Linked DNA regions of Homo sapiens: region 1 is linked to region 2. The links come from fine-mapping of genetic effects on gene expression. Tissue or cell type: cerebellar hemisphere. Region 2 holds a variant in brackets; the other region holds the start of a gene. All regions are shown on one strand. Distances are between the middles of the regions.

The links. PIP is the estimated chance that this variant, and not a neighbour inherited with it, causes the effect.
Region 1: ALKBH3 starts here. The variant in region 2 is fine-mapped to the expression of ALKBH3 in cerebellar hemisphere (GTEx, PIP above 0.99).

What each region holds. Positions count from the first base shown.
Region 1 is chr11:43,879,441-43,882,200 of GRCh38, reverse strand. ALKBH3 (alkB homolog 3, alpha-ketoglutarate dependent dioxygenase) reads right to left here and starts at 1,370. Exons shown (of 10, transcript NM_139178.4): 1 at 1,022-1,370. It overlaps LOC105376644 (a long non-coding RNA gene), which reads left to right and starts at 1,464. Exons shown (of 3, transcript XR_001748200.2): 1 at 1,464-1,519. RefSeq lists an enhancer at 1,385-1,584.
Region 2 is chr11:43,926,846-43,929,605 of GRCh38, reverse strand. LOC124902663 (a long non-coding RNA gene) reads left to right here. Exons shown (of 3, transcript XR_007062657.1): 2 at 1-1,158; 3 at 1,248-2,555. It also overlaps a transcript of ACCSL not described here. Among named protein-coding and RNA genes, the nearest start is that of ALKBH3-AS1, 7.3 kb to the right of the region's middle. RefSeq lists an enhancer at 1,020-1,521. The variant C/T (reference allele first, on the strand shown) is at 1,645.

The DNA of each region.
Region 1 (2,760 bases), 47 kb after region 2:
TCCATTATCACTGGCTGCATCAAACTTCCCTGGAAGTTTGTTCAAAATACCTATGGCCCACCTTCAGAAAATCTGATTTAGGATGGATACAGGTATTTGTCTTTATAACAAGCAGTGTAAGATTTGACACAATGCAGGTATGTATGTGGACGGTAAAGTTCAATGATGCACCCAAAGCCACTCAGGAAATCAACAACAGACAGATTAACATTCAACTTATATTAAACTCCTGTCTCCAGCTAACGGATAAATCCACCTCATAATGGCTAATAATACTAATTTGACAGTTGTACCAGTAAAAGCTTAGCCTACAGCAAATGCAGAAGCACGTACAGCTACCAAAACAACAAGGAAATTCAAGCCACATGTTCCACATCTGTAATCTATTTCTTTATGCTTCTACCTAAGAAAGCTTCACACCTCAAGTTCTCAAAGGTAAAAGCTCGTTTTATATTAATAGCTTGCTTAGACTATAGATTCCCAGGTCCCATCTCCCACCTCTTCTGATTCAGTAGAGCTGAGCCAGGCCCAGGAATCTGTGTGTTTAACAAGTTCCCCCAGATGATAAGCATGTAATTCATTTCATTTAATAGGTGGAGAGACGCAGAGGCTGCCATCTGCCCAGAAGAGTTAATGACAATCAAATACCAATTCTCCAATCCCAGGAGCTCCCGTTTGACATGTTCTCTCAATTGAGGCCCTAAAAGCGTAACACAATTACCTACAGTCCCCGCAGAGGATACGACTTGCTCACCTTCTTGCTCCATTCACTGGGGAGCCATATGTTATTTGCCAGGGAACAATTGTTGAAAATAGATTCCAGAGCCCCATCCCAGATCTACTCAATTTGTAGAGTCCCAGAATTTGTTAACTAACGCCACCCTCAACCCAGGAATTCTTAATGCACATAAAGCTTGAGAACCAGTGCTGTAAAATACAAGGACTCTGGCGCCAGCCAGAACTCGCTTTGAATCCAGATCTGTCACTTCCCAGCTGCATGGCCCATGGCAAATGACTTCACCTTTCTGAGCCCCAGTTTTTCCTCAGTAAACAGGGCAGTCACTTTCCGCACGGTTGAGGTGCAGACTAAGCGAGCTCCGCAGGTGGAAGAGCTTGGTCGTGGATAAGGGCACTTCCTTTTCCTAATTTAGATCCTTCTCTTTAAGGAGGCCTAGAATGAGGCCCCGGAGGTCGCCCAGGAAGAGACTTCAGGGGTGGTACTCGCACCCCCAGCCCCGCGCACCCAGCAGTAAGTCAGGAAGGCGCACTTGCGGGCGGAGCCGGGCGCGCCCGTGCAAACCCGGTAGGACTTGGGGCAGCCCTCGCAGCCCCTGACCCACTCCGCAGTCTGTGATCGGAACCTTAAGAGTGAAGCACCGACTCCAGCAACTCCCAATCACAGGCCGCGGCATCAGGCACTTCCTCTCGACGTTACGCAGCGCCGCCACTACTTCCGGTGCGCAGTCCTCAGTCCGGGTAGTCCCACATCCCCCGCGCCTGGAGGGCCTAATCACCGAAGGTGCTGATGAGGGGATATGTGTTGCAGCGGACAGGGATTGAGAGTGCAGGGGAGCGGTGTGAAGGGGTCGGGGTTTGGCAAAGGTGGAAGTGAAGGCGTGTCTCCTACGTGAGTTCCTCGAAACTGGAGATGTCCAAGCATCGGCATCTTTGTGGCAGAAAGAGTGACCGGGTCCCTGTGGGACTAGATAAAGGGAGAGGAGTTTGGGGGACCTGGTTATAATGTGTTAGGCAAAAGGATTTGCATTTTATCCTAAAAACCACGGAGAGCCTGAAATGAGCCTCCTTTGTGTTCCTATTGCAGCCTGTGCACACCTCCGAACACAGCATTTACAGCAGGGCGTAGGACCACGCCTTAATTCACCTTGGCTCTCTCCAGTGCTAAGCAAATTTGCTTGAGTGAACAGACCTACATTTTGGCCCAGACACCACCACTTACTAGTTGTATAATCTAGGGCAAGTACTCTGCCTCTTTTTAAAATGGGTATCGCTCTTTTTGGGAGGATTAAGTGAGATAATGCATTTAAAGAATATAGCACAATGCCTGGAACACAACAAAAACTCAAAAAATGAAAAAGAGCTCACCCCATTTGAGCTCATGAGAAACATCTTTAAAATGGTCATGTTAAACCATGTACTTTACAGTATGAAAATAGCAAAAGTAGCACTGAATTGACTGTTTTATGCAAGTCATTCTCTAAGATCCGCCAAAGTATAGTCACTGTGGAAATCTTTAAAATAAGCCTGATATGAGTGTTTACCTTCAGGAAGCTCATTATAGGTACACCTCATCAATGTGTACCTATATTGTTGCTACTATCAAATCCATTTTCACAGCACTCATTATTATTTGTTATACTTTGTGACACTGAAGGAAAAAAATGATTTATCCTAGACCTGAAAGGAGAGAAAATGCTAAGGCCACACTACAGTTTTTTTCCCCCATCAACTAATTTGTCAATGTCTGCTTCTGGCTCAGGAACTTTGGCTGTATCTTCTAAAATATGTTATTTCTTTCTTTTCAATGATTATAGTTTTGGAACAGGAACAAAGAAGTCTGGATTGAGGAGTTCCTAAAAGTAGTGATTGACACCTCTTCAGCCTCTACGTAGTGTATTTCTCAAAGATCAATCCATGATTTACTTGCATCTGAAATTACTGCTTTTTTTTTGTTTAACAGAATCACCTGCGTTTTTAACAAGCACCCAAGTGATTCTGGTGCACAAAAATTTTGAAAACCTC
Region 2 (2,760 bases):
GCGAAACCCCATCTCTACTAAAAATACAAAAATGAGCCGGGCGTGGTGGCAGGTGCCTGTAATCCCAGCTACTCAAGACGCTGAGGGAGGAGAATTGCTTGAACCCAGGGGCAGAGTTTACAGTGGGCCAAGATCGTGCCACTTCACTCCAGTCTGGGCAAAAGAGTGAAACTCCATCTCAAAATAAAGTAAAATAAATAAATAAATAAATGTTAAAAATTAGCTGCGCATGATGGCATGTGCCTATAGTCCCAGCTACTTAGGAGGCTGAGGTAGGAGGATCATTTGAGCTTAGGAGATTAAGGCTGCAGTGAGCCATGACTGTGCCAATGACTCCAGCCTGGGTAACAAAGGAAGACCCTGTCTCAAAACAAAAGCAAAAAACAACAACAAAAATCAAGGCCACACAAGCTCTTTCCTTCGCATTCACACACTATTTCATAAGAATAGCTGCCGGTACTGAGACGGATACATTTTGTCTCTCTCAATTGAACAACTCTGTTTTATAGAAGATGGGGAAACTCAGGCTAAGAATTTGCCAAAGGCCATGTAGCAGTCAGTGGAGGAGCTGGAACTAGAACCAGGTCTACTGGACTAAAATTGCCACCACAGCACCATCCTGCCTGGCTGGTTGCTGGCAGTCTTTCCTCTGAAGCATCTTGGATTGGGCTGGGATGAGCAACAGCCAGCATGGGGGCAGTGGCTGCCTCTCCTACCTTGTGTTGCAATGAGGAGAGGAACGCTCCATTCCCAAGAGGGAAGAATATCGGAAAGGCAGCTTCCATCCTTTTCCCAGCCTCCCTAACTCTCTTTCCCGAGAGCGGAGGAATGACTTATAAGCAGCTTGGGAGAAGGAGCTGAGCTGGGGGCATAGGGAATCTGGCCCTTTCCTGGCCACTCTGAGCTGCTTGTCTACAGAGAGTGCCCGCTGCCCAGCTCCTGCGTCCTCCATGGGGAAGGGCCAGCATCCACCTTTGAGAAGCACACCTGGAGGCCCACCTCCTCCGCTCCCCACTCGCAGGCTCACCAAGGGAGGCAGCGATCCTCCTGGCGGCTGGCAGAGACCGGGCCTGCAGCACAGACTGTTTCCTCGGATGGGGTACCCTGAGGCCTTGATAGGGTGAAGGCATATCAAGAAGTCTGACTGTGGTCATGGAGGTAAGCCAAGGTCTCCCGGCCTTATCAGTAATAACCTTGATATGCTGACCTCGTAGCTGAGTCCTGTGTCTGTTTTTCTGTTGTTTCAGCACTCATGGGAAGAAGGGGTGTTACCAGCACTAGAAAATCCGACATCTTTTCTTTTCACCATTCCTAGAGGTGTCCCCCAGGCCACATGTGCAGCCTCAAACTTGGACTCCTGCAGTCTCTCTCCCAGGTCTTCTCACCTCTGCCCAAGCCAGCTCCTACGCCTGATGTGGGCCCATCTTCCTCCCCCACCGTCTCCCCTCCAGCTCAACATAAGCTACCAAGGGGTCCCTCCCTGCTCATCAGCCTTTCAGCTGTCACTTAACAGGGTGCTCCTGCCCATTCTCCAAGTGCCTCCTCCAACAGGCAGACTTCCCTGGCCACCACCTCATATTCTGCCAGCTCTAAGACTCATCATCAGGACCCCTTGTTCCACTTTCACCTTATTATTGATGTTTT[C/T]CAAGTGTGTGTCTTGTTTTCTCAACAAATTACACACAGTATAATACCACCACCCATACTGGCTGAGATGTCCTGAGTTCTTGCTTACTCTGTGCCAGGCACAGGACAGCTTCTTCTCTGAGGAGGGAAATGGTATAAAAGACTAAGCATAGGGCCCAGCACACAGTCAGTGCTCAAGCAGGGCAGGAGTTTCTCAGATCTGCTCAAACACCACTGGCAGGTGGATAAATTGGTGTACTCTTTCTGGAAAGCCATTTCCATTATGTATTCAAAGCCTTAAAATATGCATAGCCTTCCGGATCTGGGCCAGCGACCCCACTTTTAGGAATTTATTCTAAGAAACAATCAGAGATGTACTCAAAGGTTTAGCTACAGGACTGCACCCAGCCACACCAGTGGAAGAGCTGTGCCTCCGTTTAACTGTAAAATGGAGATAAAAATAGTGCCTAGTCTATGGGCTGCTGTGAGGATTCATAAATCAGGCACTGATTATATGTAAAGCAATGAATGCAGTGCCTAGTACATATTGCAGCTTTTCAAAAGTGTTACCTGCTCTTTTTATTATTTGAATTGAAGTCTGAATGAAGTCAAAGCCCGAATGGGCTCCCTACCTCCCTCCCTCCATTCTCGTGATTTCCAAAACCAACAAAAGGGTTACTAATATCAAAAACAGCATCAACACCAACCACCATCTAAATCCAACACAAAGGAACTGGTTAAATAACAATACAACTGTATATAACACTATGCAGCCACTCAAGATGATGTCATAGAACAAGAATTAATGGCAGGCACCAATGTACCTAAGTAGAAAAAGGCCCCAAAACTATTAGTTCAGTAAGATGGTAATTTTTTCTTTTAAAAAGCACATAAATGTGTAGAAAAAATATATATACTGCAAATTGTGAAAAGCTGGCCGGGCTCAGTGGCTCACGCCTGTAGTCCCAGCACTCTGGGAGGCCGATGGGGGGCGGATCGCTTGAGCCCAGGAGTTCCAGACCAGGCTGGGCTACATGGCAAGACCGTCTACAACAAATTCTGAAATTAGCCAGGTGTGGTGGGGTGCACCTGTAGTCCCAGCTACTCAGGAGGCTGAGGTTGGAGGATCACCTGAGC